Linked DNA regions of Homo sapiens. The protein of the gene in region 1 purifies or fractionates together with the protein of each later gene. This does not show direct contact. Each region holds a gene or a part of one and is shown in the gene's direction. Other genes may lie near its edges. The genes, in order: COL4A1 and FKBP9.

Region 1 (3,824 bases):
AGATAACAAGGTAACTCACGGATGGTGTGGCGTCTGCCCTGCGCCCCAGCCGTGTGGAGGGTCTCTGTTCCACCTTCCAGACGTGCTGTGTGCGAGGCGCCCACCATTGCCATTTCCTTCTACTGGTTTTTTCTTGTGCTTTTCTACACATTTTTCCAAGTGTAGAAAAAGTTGGCAGGAAAGCAATTTTTAAAATGTTCGTGCACGTGTACAAGTTTGATTGTATGATTTGCTGGGTTGATTGTACTGCAGCTACACTCTTCATGTTGCAACCACCAGATTAACAGGTTGTTGCAATAATTCGAAGTGCTGCATTGTAACTACTTTATCGAGAGAGCCAGAAAGGTTGAAAATGCTGTATAGAGAAATCAGGACACTAACAATGATGTAAGCTTGCCATGTTCATTAAAAGGTAGATTGGATTCGCCACTCCATAATCATAAGAAATACTGAGTGGAATCTCTGTGTGTCAGAGAAAGCCCACAGTTGCATTGAGGACCCACAGGAAAGCTGTTGTCACCACCAACCCTTGTCCGGGTGTCAAAAGGCCTGAAACAGTGATTGCCCATAATTTGTCTAAATCAGGAGCAAACGAAAATAGTGACGTTCTAGAGAACAGTGTCTTCCAGCACCTCCTCTGAGTTCTCAGGACGGTGGCTCTGATCTGGAGGTCTGGAGACCCCGTCCTTGCCTCTGCTCCGCCTTGAAGCTATGTGATCCTGGTCAGATCCGAGAATGTCCTCAGCTGGGAATCAGTGGAGTTAGCCTTGTCCTCAAAGGTCCCTTGTGTCTCCAAAATTCTAGAGTTCACATTTCCTATATCTGAAATAATAGTCACGGGGCTCTGTTGTAATGTCTTAGTCAAGTTTGTATGTCATTCATTTTAAGGTCTTGATTTCTGAGTACAGGAAGGTCCTACTTAAACCTGCTAGACCAAAATGCAATTTGATATAGTAGTAGCTATTTTTTTCTCTTTCTCTTGTTTTTCTCTCTTTTTAAAGAAAAAAAATTGAATGATTATTCTTTACCTTATTATAAGATAAATAGCATCTAATATAGCAAATACAGGAATGCATTTGTAAAGTCTGATTCCACATCAGTTGTTTACAACATTATTTGAACATTTTGGCTATTGTCTCATGACCCATGTTAGAATGGGTTGGAGTGTTTCAAATCTAATACACAGTGAGCTCTTCTTTAAACTCTAATGAAGCTGGGCTGGTCACCTATTTGGGAAGCAGCCATTAGACGATCCCTGGGGCCATGCTGAGCACCATGGGGCCCCAGCCATGCAGGCACTGGCTTGCGGGCCAGCCCGATAATTTGGGCACAGAGTGTGTCCTGTGGTGACCACATGAGGCTGCAGTGTGTGGCTTTCCAGAGGGAACACCCTGGCGCCTTCCTGGGAAGGATCGATCTCTTTCCTGGTGTTTGGGGAGGGAACCTCTGACTCACGGCTCGCATCTGTTCTGCAGCACACCAGCGCTGGTGCAGAAGGCTCTGGCCAAGCCCTGGCGTCCCCCGGCTCCTGCCTGGAGGAGTTTAGAAGTGCGCCATTCATCGAGTGTCACGGCCGTGGGACCTGCAATTACTACGCAAACGCTTACAGCTTTTGGCTCGCCACCATAGAGAGGAGCGAGATGTTCAAGTAAGTGGGAGCACTGCTTTTTTGCAGGCTGCTGGCCCCTTTGTGACTTTATTTTTTAATCATCCGCGATCCGTAACACCTTCCAATGCAAAGTCTCAAAGATGGTTAGCAATGAATATTTGATGCTGTTCGACATGGGCAGATGACCGAGACGATTTTCAAAGGCAGACCTTCAGTCACAGGTTTAATTTTTTCATTTACCGAAGAACCATGAAAGAAAAAGGTCATTTTCCATTTTTTCTAGGTGAGTGTACTAAAATGTAATTAAAGCAACTGAAATCTCCAAACAGAGCATGTTTGAAATACAGTATATTTAACAATCCCGGGGAGAAGAAGTGAGCAGCGTTCATTTTCATGCCATTCATAACACTGATCGTAATGTACACTTTGTGTAAGTTCTGAGTGACTTCACAAGGTATTTTTTTAGACCTGTGCAAATAAAAATTAATTTCAGCACAAATTCAGCTGAAACTGAGAGGGAAGACCCTTCCTTCCTTTTCCATTACCAAAATCTCACCTTTAAAATGACTGGCCCAAGTGGCTACTAACCTTGCTGGAGTTGACTGGGAGCCGGGCCGGTCCCCGAAGGCCAGGAACGCATAATGAACCCTCTATCCCGAGCCCCAGCTGCAGCCCCGCTGGAGCCAATGCAGGAGGCTGACGGAGCTGGCACAGCTGCTTACTGTTCATTTCCAAAACAAGCGCTTCTCACCCCTGGAGATGAGCCTTTCCATCTTCACCTTTTTGGAGAGAATTATATGGAACCCTGCTATGATCCTGTCTCTTTCCAGCTTAGATAGTAAGAGGCAGAACAACATACACGCTTCTCTAATTCGTTACTCATCCAAAAAGTGCCGCGTGCCTAACTGGTGGTTTATTGGAGCCTTTCAAGGAACTGGAAACTTGACATCCATGCTGCAGATAGAGTTTAACCATTCACTACCAAAATGAGCGCACTTTGTTCATGCCTCAGCCCTTGCGGTGTCCTCTTATAAGGTTGATAGGTAATGATGGGTTTTTTTTTTTTAACCAGCAGCCTGATACAATAAACTAAAATGTTTTCCCAAAGCAAATTAGGTAAGATCCCATTAATTTAAATAATAAACTTGAGGGTACTAGAATTTGCACCAAAAGTTAATAAAATAAGCAGCCTCAATTTTAGGATGAGGCACTCTCATAAATGGCTATTTTAATTTAGTTTAATTAATTTATTTATTTTAATAGAATTTTCTCAGTAACAATTTTAGTTCAGATTTTACCTTTTCAACAATCAAAATAATGTAGAGTTTCTAAGCTTGAGAAACACTTGGGACATTGAATGTCTTTCCCTCTTTTTGGTCTCAAAGCAGACCATCTGCATAGAAATCCTTCAAAAGTTATAAAAGTATTTCGAGGTCTAGGGAATTACTCCAGATTTATTACTCATCACATCATTCCACAAATATTTAATGAATACTTACTGTGTGTGTAAAGTGTTGCAGAGAAGAATAATATCTTCTTCTTACCCTGGAGGAGTTTATGATCTAGTGGAGGAGAATGGAAAAAAAGTGAAATTGTAGTACGAGGAGGCAGGGTGGCACAGAGGGGAATGGCCAAGGCTTCGGAGCCAGACTGATGTGGCGGGACTTCAGCTGTGCCCTATGGGGCTGTGGGCACTGGGGCAGGTGCCAGGGCCTGGGTGTGCAGCTGGTAACCTGCAGTGTTCTGTGTGCGTGGGACCGTGTGTGCACTGCACCCAGCACCTGCCTGCTCACTGGGTGGTACCAGGTTGAGGCCTGATGCCAGGGGCTGGGCTGATCCCTTAGAGATTTCCGAGCAGGGCAGGAGTGCCATGTTTCTGACGTGCTGTGAGATGATGGCCAATGGTCTGTCTCTGTGTCGTGTTTTAGGAAGCCTACGCCGTCCACCTTGAAGGCAGGGGAGCTGCGCACGCACGTCAGCCGCTGCCAAGTCTGTATGAGAAGAACATAATGAAGCCTGACTCAGCTAATGTCACAACATGGTGCTACTTCTTCTTCTTTTTGTTAACAGCAACGAACCCTAGAAATATATCCTGTGTACCTCACTGTCCAATATGAAAACCGTAAAGTGCCTTATAGGAATTTGCGTAACTAACACACCCTGCTTCATTGACCTCTACTTGCTGAAGGAGAAAAAGACAGCGATAAGCTTTCAA
Region 2 (3,824 bases), on another chromosome or scaffold:
CTAAAATTTCCAACCCTACAAGTACTGTCCAGTGGAGATGTTCCTGTATCAGTAACTCCTAGGCAGGGTTTTTGCTTTGCTATGGCCCCATTACATCTGTGGGCACATTTTTACAGGTTGGTTTTTACTGAGGAAGGGACTATTTATACTTTTCTTTCTCTTTCCCTACCCTTTGGGCCTTCAGCTATGACAGAGACTCCACTTTCAATGTGTTTGTGGGAAAAGGACAGCTGATCACAGGGATGGACCAGGCTCTTGTTGGGATGTGCGTAAACGAGAGACGTTTCGTGAAGATTCCCCCAAAGCTTGCCTACGGAAATGAAGGAGTTTGTAAGCTTTTCTTCCTCGTTTATAAACACGTCAGCAGAAACAATGAGAACACTTTTAGGATGTTAAGTCAAACAGACTGGAGAATCTTGGAAGCTTTAGATTGGGGGAAAATGAAAAGCAGTGAACTCATACACAGCTAAAATTTCCATCTTAGGTTTATTTCTTCTAGATGTGAAAGAAAGTGTCATTAACACAGATGTACTGAATGATACCCTCAATGAGAAGAAGACTGTTTTTTCTCTTTTCTTTCAATTTCATTTGGAGGAAAGAGGGAGGAAGAATGGGTCATTTTGGGATTGTATAGCGGTGACTGCTTGAACCCTTTTGGCCCACATTCACCTTGGGAGCATCCTAGGTGTTTATTTATCTGGCCTGAAAGGCAGCAACTGTGAACTCAGTGTGTAATCTTTAATTTCTAGCTGGTGTGATCCCCCCCAATTCAGTGCTTCATTTTGATGTACTTCTGATGGATATTTGGAATTCTGAAGACCAGGTTCAGATTCACACCTATTTCAAGCCCCCGAGTTGCCCTCGGACCATCCAGGTGTCTGATTTTGTGAGGTACCACTACAACGGGACGTTCCTGGACGGAACTCTGTTTGATTCGAGGTAAGTCCTGTCGTTCATGGCAGTATCAGTGAAATGTCCCATGCATAGTTCTTTCCTTCTGTCTTACTTGCTTTTTATGCTGATGGGGATACCAGAATAAGGACTCTTCTCAACTGTAATCAGTACTGAACTCATCTACTTAAGACTTTTGGTCAGTGTTGCATCTTCTCTGGTGCCAGAGTCAAAATTTTAATACATCTTAGAAACATTGAAGAGCAGTGTTTATCTAACTTAACAGTATTTTGAGATCTCATCATTAAGTGAAAGGTTCTATTTCTTTCTTTTTTTTTTTTGAGATGGATTCTCGCCCTGTCACCCAGGCTGGAGTACAGTGGCACGATCTTGGCTCACTGCAACCTCTGCCTCCTGGGTTCAAGCGGTTCTCCTGTCTCAGCCTCCCAAGTAGCTGGGACTACAGGCGCATGCCACCACACCAAGCTAATTTTTTGTATTTTTAATAGAGACGGGGTTTCAGCATATTAGCCAGGGTGTTCTCGATCTCCTGACCTCATGATCTGCCTGCCTTGGCCTCCCAAAGTGCTGGGATTACAGGCGTGAGCCACTGCACCCGGCCGTGTAAGTCTCTATTTCTAAGGAGGCTTATGCACGTTTTGGTTCCTTTTTATAGTTTTCCCATGGAAGCAAGAGGGAAAAGATGAATGTATGTGAAGCTATGGAGAGGCATGGGGCTACACGGGAGATCAGGGAACCCTTCGCAATTTCTTCTCATTAGAGCGTGTTTGATTAGTGGAATAGCTGGCCTGTTTTTGTCTATCACTAGTATAAATGCATGCTTTTTATTTCTTTCTAAACTTGAGGACATCTGCCCTGTGTTTGGGGGAAAAGATCCATAAATGTCTATCTCTAGGATGGGTATGGGATCATCGTTTAGCTGATATTTGGGTAAGAAAAACCGTACGGAGAGATGAGTTGGAAATATCCTCATGGTGTGGAACTTTTTCCCTTTCTCATTACCTTTCAGTCACAATCGCATGAAAACATATGACACGTATGTGGGAATTGGCTGGCTGATTCCTGGAATGGATAAAGGGCTGCTGGGGATGTGTGTGGGTGAGAAGCGCATCATCACCATTCCTCCTTTTCTGGCCTATGGAGAGGATGGAGATGGTAAGTCCGTCTCCTTCTTGGAGCCACTCTTTCCTACCCTTATTTTTATTGCAGTGGTTAATTCAGTTGTCACCACATGAAACCCACTAGACCTTTCGGTCTAGACCTACACTGGCCAATATGGTAACCACTAGCTACATGTGGCTATTAATTAGCTAAAATTTAAAATTCAGTTCCTTGGTCACACTGCTACATTTTAGGTACCCAATAGCCTCACGTTGCTGAGGACCACCATAGTGGACAGTGCAGATACAGACCCAGATCATTTCCATCACTCAGAAAGTTCTATTTGACAGTGCTAGTCTGGATTGTCTGCTGTCTGATGATTGAGTTGCAGAAATTTCCACTTACTTATAGTCATTGGCATTCATAAGTAACCCCCTCTGCCCCTGTTGTACCTGCCATGGCCTTGGCCACCAACCTCTCTGGCTTTAACATTTGTGAAATGAGACTTGAATTAGACACTATAAAAGTTGCAGATATCCAGGTAGAAATTTAGCCATACAATGTCAGAATTGCCAGATTTCCCCGTTTGCACCTCTATGATGAGTTTTACCTATGGCATTAACTCCATATGGACAAAAGCAAAGTGTAATGTTAGAAAACACATTAATTACAACTAGTGTCCTGTTTGTAGTTTTACTGTGAAGGAAAACACATAATATTGACTGATAAATGGAATGTCTCAGGTACTCATGTTTGAATTTCAGGTGCGTTTAGTCATATTGACATGCTGGCACAACATAGAGACCGGTAGACATTTAAACAGCAGATGGATACAATGATGTGTTGATTCATAATGGGGATATGTTCTGAGAAAGGCATCATTAGGCAATTGCATTGTTGTGCAAATGCCATAGAGTGCACTTACACAATCCTAGGTGCTACATCCTGCTGCACACTTAGGCTGTGTGGTGTAACCTGTTTCCTCTAGGCTGCAAACCTGCACAGCATCTGTACTGAATCCTGTGAGCTACTGTAACACAATGGTAAGAATTTGTGTATCTAAACATAGAAAAGGTACAGTAAAGACATGATATGATAATCTCATGGGACCACTCTCATATATGTGGTCTGTTGTTGACCAAAACTTCATTGTGCAGCACATGATTTTGTAGTTAAGGATATAAATGAGAACATGATGCTTCTTAAGAAGTTTACTGATAGTGATAGCCAGCTTACAATAGCCAATATGTTTTCAACGTTTTTTCCTGGCTCTGTGGAGCGGAGCAGGAGCAGAAGGGAGCCTGAGGTGATGGGGCTCAGCCTTCTCTCCTTTCTATCTCCATATATATATATATACTTATATATATATATGTATATATACACGCCCATATATATATATACACTCATATATATATATACATGCCCATATATATATATGTATATATACACTCATATATATATACTCATATATATATACACTTTTTTTTTTTTTTTGAGACAGAGTCTCACTCTGTTGCCCAGGCTGGAGTGCAGTGGTGCGATCTCGGCTCACTGCAACCTCTATCTCCTGGATTCAAGAGATTCTCCTGCCTCAGCCTCCTGGGTAGCTTGGACTACAGGCGTATGCAACCATGCCTGGCAGATTTTTGTATTTTTAGTAGAGACAGCATTTCGCCATGTTGGCCAGACTTGTCTCAAACTGCTGAGGTCAAGCCATCCATCCACCTCGGCCTCCCAAAGTGCTGGGATTACAGGTGTGAACCACTGTGCCTGGCCCACTTTTATATATTTTACATGCTGGGGATCTGCAG

Evidence for each region.
Region 2: the proteins of COL4A1 (region 1) and FKBP9 purify together in Homo sapiens (co-immunoprecipitation; one large-scale study listed by IntAct). This does not show direct contact.

The regions. Positions count from the first base shown.
Region 1 is NC_000013.11:110,150,158-110,153,981, reverse strand, and holds part of COL4A1 (collagen alpha-1(IV) chain isoform 1 preproprotein), read left to right. Parts: intron 1-1,475; coding exon 1,476-1,648; intron 1,649-3,537; coding exon 3,538-3,619; 3' UTR 3,620-3,824. UniProt on the Homo sapiens protein: Type IV collagen is the major structural component of glomerular basement membranes (GBM), forming a 'chicken-wire' meshwork together with laminins, proteoglycans and entactin/nidogen.
Region 2 is NC_000007.14:32,974,433-32,978,256, forward strand, and holds part of FKBP9 (peptidyl-prolyl cis-trans isomerase FKBP9 isoform 1 precursor), read left to right. Parts: intron 1-184; coding exon 185-330; intron 331-749; coding exon 750-939; intron 940-1,921; coding exon 1,922-2,067; intron 2,068-3,824. UniProt on the Homo sapiens protein: PPIases accelerate the folding of proteins during protein synthesis.